2 separate regions of the Homo sapiens genome follow, and region 1 is linked to region 2. A link means that fine-mapping ties the variant in region 2 to the expression of a gene that starts in the linked region. Tissue or cell type: blood mononuclear cells. Region 2 holds a variant in brackets; the other region holds the start of a gene. All regions are shown on one strand. Distances are between the middles of the regions.

Region 1 (5,530 bases), 46 kb before region 2:
CCAGCCTCTCCTCGGGCTGCTGGGCAGACTCTTGTACCCGTGGCAAACCATCCAGTCTAACAATATTTCATGAGATAGTGCAAAAGCTGGACAAGGCAGAAAGGCAACTTTTCTGTAAACAGTATAAGGTTGACTTACAGGATATTAAATGCACTATTAAAAATTCTCAGGAAGAGGAAGAGACTGAAGATTTTTATCTGAGCACAGTACATTGTTTTTCTAAGCAACAGGGCCAAACAAGCTCAGAATTTATGGACTTACTTTTGTTGTTTTTTTTTTTTTTTGGACTTACTTTTTGAATGGAAGTCACAGTCACAACACTTGCCTATCAATTATTTATTTATTTATTTATTTATTTATTTATTTATTTATTTAGACAGAGTCTTGCTGTGTCGCCCAGGATGGAGTGCAGTGGTGTAATCTCGGCTCACTGCAACCTCCGCCTCCCAGGTTCAAACGATTCTTCCGCCTCAACCTCCCAAGTAGCTGGGAATTACAGGTTCCCGCCACCTGGCCCAGCTAGCTTTTGTATTTTTAATAGAGACGGGGTTTCATCAGGTTGGCCAGGCTGGTCTCGAACTCCTGACCTCAAGTGATCTGCCCGCCCCGGCCTCCCAAAATGCTGGGATTATAGGCATGAACCCCGTGCCCTGCCTTAATGATGTTGTGCCCTGCCTTAATGATGTTTTGAGACCACAATAAAACCTAACTGATTCATACCAATGGGGAACTGTCAAACTGCATCAGTGGAGAGAAGTGAATTACATCCTTTTTAACATAAACTCTTTTATTTCCAGTAGAATTCAAATAAAATAAAATCTTTATTTCCAAATGGTTCAATACTTGGACCTGTTTTTTAAGGGGTTGTTCAGAATCTGATCTACTACATTTGTTACAACCACATTTATTGTTTGTATGGAAACAGGAATGGCTAAAGTTTTGAGAAGTGTGTTCTTCCTAAAAACGTAAAACATTCAACATCCCCCAGCAACCATGCTCACACAGTTCGCTCCTTGGTAGAGCTTTTTCTTCCCAGATCATGTGGAAGAAAACCCCAGCTCAGGCTGCTCCCGGCTGCTCTGGTTCTGAGTGAGTGTGCAGAGGTTTGCAATATCAGCCCAGGTCAAGCCCTGAAAAATCTCTCCAGACTCCAGACTTGATCTGTCCAGACCCATCCGAGAATTAACAGGCTCCCCATCGTGCCCACAGAAGCAAGACTGTCATGGAAACACTGATTCAACCATAATAACTACTGACAGAAAAACCACACAAATGAACTAAACAATTCTTCCACCCAATCAGAGTCCAGGGGAGTCCATAGCCTCAGGATTAAAATAAGTAGGGCTGTTTTTATTATGTGGTCCAGCTCGTTTGAGCCTCTCCCATTGCCTTGTTTTCACAGCTCCCTTTTATGAGAAAGAAAGTGGGGGTGGGGGAGTTGGGAGGGAGACTAGAGCTATGCAGACGGGAATGCCAGGCTGGGAATACCAACAAACAGTGTGCTGCATGTCAGGCAAATTAAAACTTCTAGCCTGGAGGAGGCTGTAATCGTGTTTGCGGTTAGTCTGAAAACAAGCTACACTGAACTTCTATCTCCCAGGAAAACAGTCGAGTGTGGACTGAAGTCAAAAATGAGTATTTTTAGCAAGCATTCTCTCTCTTCCGTTTATTTTCTTCCTTCTTCTGTCTTTAGATATTAGAAACGCTAATTACATGAAGTATCATTATTATTCGAAGAAAGCACAGTTAGAAGGGTTAAAAATAAAAAGATGCCAAACCAACAGAAGCAGTACAATCCTAAGGAGGAATATATTTTAATTTTTCCCTGTACCCACGAGGTTCAGTTTGTGGGTCCAAGGGACCCAACCCCAATACCCAGTGAATGGTCATACCTGCAGGAAATATTTGGGCCAGTGTGGTGGCCCCCGCGGCTGTGGCCCCGTGGCCTGGCTCCTTGCCTTCCAGGGCAGGAGGGGACTCCGGGCTGCAGGCACAGGCTAAGGTCCGAGCTGAGGTACCAGGGAGCGGGGAGGGACAACAGCCCAAATAACAGCAGTCAGAAGGAGGAGGGAGTCCGGGAGCGGGAGAGAGACACAGAGACCCCGAGGGAGGCGTGAGGGGCGCAGAGCTGGTGGCCCGGGTCCGAGAGGTCGAGGGGCCGCGCGCGGGTGAGAACGAGCCCCGGCCCCCGCCCTCGGAACTGAGTCGATATTCCTTTTTTTGCTGTTTGAGTTTTCTCTTTAGAGTCGGACCCCGGTCCCAGCAGCAGTCTCAGAACAGAGGGGAGCCGAGGAGTCCCTGCCGGGAGGCCATCCCTCTGCGGGCCCCAGGGCGCCCCTGGGGGCGGCCAGGGCGGGCGCGGGGAGATGGGGAGGCGCCGAGCGGCCCTGGAGATGCCCGCGTCCCGGGGCGCCCGCAAACTTTCCCAGACACGGCGGGAGGCCCCACCCTGGAGAGGGGGGGTCCCAGGCCTCCCGTCTCTGTCCCCTGGGGCTGGTCACTCACCGGCAGCGCGGTTGGGGCTCCGATTCTGGCCGCAGCCAGCCACACCAGGAGGCGGAGGAAGAGGAGGGGGAGGAGGAGGGGGAGGAGGAGGGGGAGGAAGACCCGGGGCCGCCGAGTGGAGGGCGGGGAGGGGCGGCCGCGGCGCAGTGACTCCTCCCGCTCCCGCCCCCGCCCCCGCCCCTCCTCCCCTGCTGAGCCTCCCTTCTCTCTTCACGCCTTCTTTCTCACCCCGAATCCCCCAAAGTTTTTCTGGTGTCCGACGCTCCGTTCTCTTCCCTCCAGCGCATCTTCTGTCCCCGAGTCTCCAGCCTCCCAGAGGAGGGGAGAGCGCTCCCTCCTGCAAAAGTCGGGGGGCGGGGGCGGTAAGTCTATGAGTTACCTTTCGATGCCCTCTTGAAGCAGATAGCTTGGACCCGTGGAAGGTCTGAAGCCACCCAGCACCCCCAGACCTTGTCCTCACCTCTGGGTGGGGATGATGGAGGGCCTTTGCGGTCGTGCTTTCTAAGTTGCTTCATGGAGTTTTGTTTTGTTTTGTACCCCCCGCCTCACCCCACCCCCACCCCCCACCCCCCACCTTGTAATTAGGAGAACTAAAGAATTATATTTGAAAGGTAAAGATGAAGCCCCACCTTCCTGGGCGAATCAATCATAGCAGGAGGAAGGACACAAGATAGTTTAGTGAGGGCCAAGCTGTGGGGGTGGGGAGGAGGTAAACGCGTCCAGATGCCTCCTCTTTGCTGCCTCAAGAGTGCATGGAGAGGGAGAAGGGGCGTTGTCCTCCCAGGAGAGGCTGCAGGGTGTCTCGTAGTCCCTATTCCATCGCCTGCTGGCAAATGACTCCAGGCAAGTCACTTGGCATCTCAGCCTCTTCCTCAAGGGGGGCTGCCTCACTGGGAGCCAGTCAGAATGAAGGCACCCTCCCCACCCCTTTACCCTGGAGAGACACCAAAACCCAGGACGAGAGACTGAGCTGAGTTTGAACAGGCTCAGAGGGGAGAGAAGAGGGCATTTTAGGCCCCATGGCATGGTGCTTTGGAGGTTGGCAAGACTGGAAGGCTTAGGGTAAGTGGGCAATGTTTAGATGGGAAGGTGGAGCTGGGCATGAAGCAGAATACAGGAAATCTCTGAAAGTTTTCAAGCGAAGGTGTAGAGTAGGCACTCAGTGAATCCTTGAGGATTCAAAATGGCAAATAAGAAATATTGGTTTAACAGTCCTGTAGGATGGACCACCTAGGAAGAAAGGGGTTGCATCCAAAGAGAGGGGTTAGGAGGCCCCGGTGAGCATCTCAACTTGAAGTACTATGCTGGAAGGTGGAAAGGCAATGAATTATTTTTTAATCGTAAATTTCCTTGAGGAGCTGGGCTAACTCATAGGCAGTGCACCCAGGGTTGGTGAAAATCAGTGGACACTTCTTTGTATTTGCACAGCAGTGTAATTCTTTTTTAAATGTTCTGTCAGGTGTAGCCTTGTTTTTGACCTTGGAGTTCGCTGGTGAAATGGAAATATAGTCAGTACCCTATTTGACCTCCAGCCAGTGTTAAGAACCTGCCCTCGGGGCTTTGAGGAAGGAAACTGACGTTCCAGGAGGGCACTCCTCGAGCGCCTGAAATCACACAGCCAGGATCTATTTAGGATACTTTTATTCTCAGATAAAACTACTAATTGTGCTTATGCTTAATATATCCTAAACACAGAAAAAGGCACTGGTTTCTCCTCAGCTTCTCATTTCCTCCAGCTACCTTCCAGTAATGGTTAAGAGTTGAGGAAGGGCAACTTGCCTAGGGAAGAGGAGAGCCTAGGGAATAGGAAGTCAACTGACTGGCTGGTTAACTTGTCAGAGATTGTTCCATGGAAACAGACAGGTACTGGACCCCTAAGTCAGGCTTCTGGTAAGGAGCTGAGAGAAGTGGAGCAAGAAGGACACAGGAAGCAGGAGGAGGAGGAACGGAAGAAAAAGAGAAGGGGCAACTCTTTGTTGTCCTCATGCTTTGACCGCAGGCATTTTGGGGTCCCCAAATTGAACCCCCAAATTGAACCTTTTTGGTCCTGTATCCAGCCCACCTTTCACCAGTGGGTCTTCCACAGAGGCCAGCTCATCTCAGAAACTGCCACAGCTAACTGGAGACAGGACTCATGCAGGAAGCAACGACACATTTGACAAACAGTAATCATCATTGCATTTACAGAGTTCTGTATGCACCTTTTAAACTTTGTCATCTTTGAAAGAAGCAGTATGGCCTTTATTAGTGGGTAGCCACCTGGTGAAAGAAATCTCTTTTGGAAACTCTGACACTTCTGCAAAGCAAGGATGCCCATAACTTTCTAAAGACTAATACAGTTGGTTGAAAACCATTTTGTCTTTTGCAAAGGACAGGCCTTCCCCCTCTGTGTGATTCAGCATTGCCCCAAAGGTTGCCAGTTTCATGAATGAAGATTTATTTCTTGCAACTCCACCATGTATTTCCAAAGGATCCTTTCTGGTAGTGTCCCTTTGTATCAAAATCTGGTGGTAAACAGCTTAGCCTGGCCTCAATAGCTAAGCCACCACAGCCGTTCATCACAGCTGTGAGCTCATTTTACTCCAGTTACTGTTCTTTCTCTTGCTTTACAATAAGTAGACCCTCAAACTATGTCATTCTCCTTTTTATTAGCAGATTTCTCTTTCCTGGCAGTTTTTTCATGGAAATATTTAGAACTTCCCAACTGTTTAACAAGAGATCCCCAAAGTATCTGTAGATATGACCTAATAGATTAGCTTGGAATTCCTCAAAACTCATGTCAGCTGAAGCTGTCAGGATCATTTAATATACATCCAAGGGGAGGGACACACTGAGAACTAAATGCTTCGTAGGAACATTCCTCTCTAAAAACTTGGCAACAGCAAATCTCTGTTTACATTATAACACTCATTCAAACTACAGCTTTTTGGCTGGGCACTGTGGCTCATGCCTGTAATCCCAGCACTTTGGGAGACTGAGACAGGCAGATCACCTGAGGTCAGGAGTTCAAGACCAGCCTGGTCAA
Region 2 (5,000 bases):
AAGAATAGTACAATAAAGGCCTGTGGTTAGGAAAGCATAGAAGAGGTATACATATATACACATATGTATTAATTATATTATATATAATTGTATATATTAATATAATATATAAAACTATATATAATACAATTATATATAGTATATACAATTGTATATATTAGTTAGTATATACAATTGTATATATTAGTTAGTATATACAATTGTATATATTAGTTAATATATACAACTATATATATGTCAATCACAAAACATGAAAATTTTTATAGCAATTCTGTACAAACAATTTCATTAATTTAGAATCAAGAAATTTTGTTGATTGTTTTAGACTATAGATAATTAATGGAGGAAATAAGACTATTTGAAAAGAAATAGTATTTGAGATTTAACCTGAAGTGATCATGATGTTTTAACTCAAAATTACTATGGTCCATGAATGAGATTATTTTCACTAACATTTTAAAACTAGGGAATTTAAAAATTATTAATATATTCCTATATTTATATACACTTGTAATAAATACGTCTTTGATTTAGGATAGTTTTAGACTTATAGAAAAGGTATGGAGTTTCATTACACCCTTTAGCCAATTTTTCCTACTGTTAACATATTACTATGGTACAGTTGTCACAGAAAAGGAACCAACCAATTGGCAAATTACTATTACATTCAATATATTTTTGAAAAGAAATGATTATGCTCAACATAGTCATAAGATGTCCAAGTGTATAAAAATTCAATTAGGATGCTGAATGCTTTTTGTTTTTTTTTTTACATTTTATTTTAGAGGCAGGGAGTTTATGTGCAGGTTTGTTATGCGGGCATATTGTGTAATACTGGGGTTTGGGCTTCCATTGAGCCCATCACCCAAATGGTGAACATAGTAGTGGGATTGTTAATACCCAGTAGTGGGTATTGCTGGGTCGAATGGTAATTCTATTTTCAGAACTCTAAAAATGAGAGAAATCTCCATACTGCTTTCCATAGGGGTTGAACTAATTTACATTCCCACCAACAGTCTGTAAGTACTGAATGCTTTTTGTATACTGAATTGCTCATCCCTAACAGACATTTTCTTTCTACACATCACAGACAGTTTTATTCAATATTTCACTGGAAGTATATACAATGTTATAATAATACAATTTGGTTGGTAAGCAATCTTGGTTGATGGTAATTGAGGTACTCATGAAAAAAGTACAATACTAAGAACAATGCTATTGTAGCTTGATTATAGTCATTCTCACAATCAAAATGTTTACTCTTGGCAGGATGCAGTGGCTCATGCCTGTAATCTAGCACTTTGGGAGACCGACGTGGGCAGATCACTGGAGGCCAGGAGTTCAAGACCAGCCTGGCCAACATGGCAAAACCCCGTGTCTACTAAAAATACAAAAATTGCTGGGTGTAGTGGCATGTGCCTGTAATCCCAGCTACTCAGGTGCTAGAGGCATAAGAATTGCTTAAACCCAAGAGTGGGAGGTTGCAGTGAGCCAAGATCATGCCACTGCAGTCCAGCCTGGGCAACAGAGCAAGAATCAGTCCAGAAAAAAAAAAAAAAAAAAAGTTTATTCTTTATTTAGTCCAAAGATTTTAATTATTTAGAGTGTTTCTTGACATTAAATTTTAACTCCAAAATGTACAAAAGAATCATGTGACTTAGACCATAGATTTATTTTTCCTTTTATGTTTCCCACGAGTCTACCAACTTCAGACCTCTGAGACTAAAGATCAAACAATTCTCACTTAGAATATGCTCCTTGAAAGGGCTGTATTTGCAACACGACCCCCAAATGCTGAAGGAGCCAAGAAATCAAAGAAGGAAGCAGGCAAATCCAGTTTATTGGTATAGGATGATTTATTAGGAGGAACTTACAGACACAAGCATGGTCTTGGGTGGCTGCAAAACAGATCTCTGCATGGCAAACCCCCAAACGCAGGGCTTATATCTTGGGGAAAAAGTATGCGTGTTCTGAAAGGAATGTGTGGGTGGCTACAGGAGTCACAGCCTATGATTTTTGTTATGGCGTCAAAGTTTGTTTTGAAGGAATCTTACAGTGAATAGGTATTCCTATATAAAGAGTAATACATTAGGCTGGGCACGGTAGTTCATGCATGTAATCCCAGCACTTTGGGAGACCGAAGCAGAAGGATCACTTGAGTCCAGGAGTTTGAGACCAGCCTGGGAAATATAGAAGGACCCCACCTCTATAAAAAAGAAATTTAAAAAATTAAAAATAAGAAAGAGTAATACACTAAATTGACATTTTGGAGGCATTCCCAGACTCAGGGTTAGTCAGAAGTTACATGGTGGATTAGCATTTAAAATAAAGACACTCTTGGCCAGGCGCGGTACCTCACGCTTGTAATCCCAGCACTTGGGTTGGAACAATGTGTACTCTGTTCTGTTTCTCATTGTGCATTACAAGGAACAGGGTAGAGAAGGGTAAAATACTATGTGCACTACTTTGCTAAATGAGCTTATAAAGCAGTACAAGTCAGTTAACGTGATGCCTCTAGCTTTATGCTTTGTGCTGTTTGCTTTGGCTATTCAGGCCCCTTTTATGGTTTCCTGTGAATTTTAGGATTTTGACATTGGGCCAGGTGCAGTGGCTCACGCCTATAATCCCAAAACTTTGAGAGGCCGAGGCAGGCGGATCACTTGAGGTCAGGAGTTCGA[G/A]ACCAGCCTGGCCAACATGGCGAAACCCTGTCTCTATTTAAAATACAAAAAAATTAGCCGGCATGGTGACGCACACCTGTAGTCCCAGCTACTCAGGAGGCTGAGGCAGGAGAATCGCTTGAACCTGGGAGGGAAAGGTTGCACTGCACTCCAGCCTGGGTGACAGAGTGAGACTTGTCTCAAAAAAAAAAAAAAAAAAAAAAAAGGAAAAAAAAGTATCTTTATTTTATAGAAAATGTAGTACGTATACGTCATAGAACACTATGCAGCCATAAAAAGGAACGAGATCATGTCCTTTGCAGGTACATGGATGGAGCCAGAAGCCATTATCTTCAGCAAACTAACGCAGAAACAGAAAATCAAATACTGCATGTTCTCACTTGTCAATGGAAGCTGAATGATGAGAACACATGGACACATGCCAAGGAACAAGACACACTGGAGCCTGATGGAGGGTGGGGGATGGGAGGAGGGATAGCATCAGGAAGAATGGCAAATGGATGCTGGGCTTACTATCTAGTTGATGGGATGATCTGTGCAGCTAATCACTACGGCACACATTTAACTATGTAACAAACCTGCACATCCTGCACATTTACCCCTGAACTTAAAAGTTGAGGGGAAAAAAAAGTCATCTGATGATGTGTATACACACTAAACTTTGGGAAACGTTGGTCTATATATTTTCATAATTACAACTACAGACTATAGTCACTTTAGAATAAAGTAGACATCCTAAAAAAAAAAAAAAAAAACAGTGTCTTTATTTTAAATGCTAATCTGCCATGTAACTTCTGGCTGACCCTGAATCTGGGAATACCTCCAAAATGTCTAGATGATATATTACTCTTTATATAAAAACATGTATTCACAATAAGTTTCCTTCAAAACAACCCTTGATACTGTTATAAAAAATCATAGGCTGTGATGCTATACCCACTTACACATTCCTTCCAGAGCACATGTACTTTTCCCTCAAGATATAAGCTCTGGGTCTGGGAGGTTGCAGTACTAAGACCTTCCCGTCTTATGACTGCCCCAAGACCATTCTTCTGTCTATAAGATACCCCAATAAATCACCCTATACCAACAAAGTGGATTTGTCTGCCTCCTTCTTTGGTTTCTCAGCTCCTTTAACATTTGGAGGTGACTTTACATATACTCCTCTTTTACAAAACAAAATGCCACTTGTTAAATAATTGAGTCACTCCTGTTTTAATTCCATGTAGGATACATATTTTTATAAATCCCTCTGTTTACACTGAGACCAACCTATCAACCAATAGATTAAGAATCCCTTATCCAAAAAGCTTAGGACCAGCAGTGTTTTGGACTTCAGATTTCTTCAGATTTTGGAATATTCGCATATACATAAGAAGGTATCTTGGGGACAGGATCCAAGTCTAAATAAGAAATTCATTTATGTTTCATATATACCTTATACATATAGCCTGAAGGTAATTTTGTACGATACTTTTAATAATTTTGTGCATGAAACTAAGTTTTGACTGCAACTTTATCATGTCACGTGAGGGCAAGTGCGGAATTTTCCACTTATGGTGTCATGATGGCACTTGAAAAGCTTAAGATTTTGAAGCATTTTGGATTTCAGATTACCGTATTAAGAATGCTCAACCTGTATTAGCATAAGAAAATTTATTTTTTTTTTATTTTATTGTTTCATTTTGTAGAGACAGGGTCTCCCTATGTTGCCCAGGCTAGTCTCAAATTCTTGGGCTCAAGTGATCTTCCCACTCAGCTTCCCAAAATGCTGGGATTATAAGCGTCAGCTATTGCACCCAGCCAGCAGAGGAAAAATTTTAAAACAAAACTAAAAAACTTGTAGCCACAGAGGTACTTGTGGTTTCAAACTGGTTCTACGTTAAGTAAAGTTCTGGAAGAGAGGACTACGACTAAGTCTTAGCTCCTCAAACCAAAAGCCTCACAGGAAAAAAGCACCATCTCTTGGATTTTTCTATAGACCAAACTAAATTCTGCAGGACTGGAGTTGAATATTGTTAACTGCCACCCATACTGCCTATCCAAGTTGTGATTTCTGAAACCAAGGCTAATTCTGTAAGTACAGTGACTTTCAAAGTTCCTTATAATTGGGGCCAGGCCCAGTGGCTCACGCCTGTAGTCCCAGCACTTTGGGAGGCCACGGCAGGTGGGTCACCTGATGTCAGGAGTTCAAGACCAGCCTGGCCAACATGGCGAAACCCCATCTCTACTAAAAATACAAAAATTAGCCAGGCATGGTGGTGTGTACCTGTAATCCCAGCTACTTGGGAGGCTGAGGCAGAAGAATCACTTGAACCCAGG

Evidence for each region.
Region 1: it holds the start of STON1, and the variant in region 2 is fine-mapped to the expression of STON1 in blood mononuclear cells (TOPMed, PIP 0.95).

The regions. Positions count from the first base shown.
Region 1 is chr2:48,527,192-48,532,721 of GRCh38, reverse strand. It overlaps STON1 (stonin 1), which reads right to left and starts at 2,568. Exons shown (of 4, transcript NM_006873.4): 1 at 2,506-2,568. STON1-GTF2A1L (STON1-GTF2A1L readthrough) reads right to left here and starts at 2,797. Exons shown (of 11, transcript NM_001198593.2): 1 at 2,734-2,797. RefSeq lists a silencer at 2,237-2,436 and an enhancer at 2,028-2,575.
Region 2 is chr2:48,481,079-48,486,078 of GRCh38, reverse strand. All of the region lies in intron 13 of PPP1R21 (protein phosphatase 1 regulatory subunit 21), which reads right to left. Among named protein-coding and RNA genes, the nearest start is that of PPP1R21, 43 kb to the right of the region's middle. The variant G/A (reference allele first, on the strand shown) is at 2,679.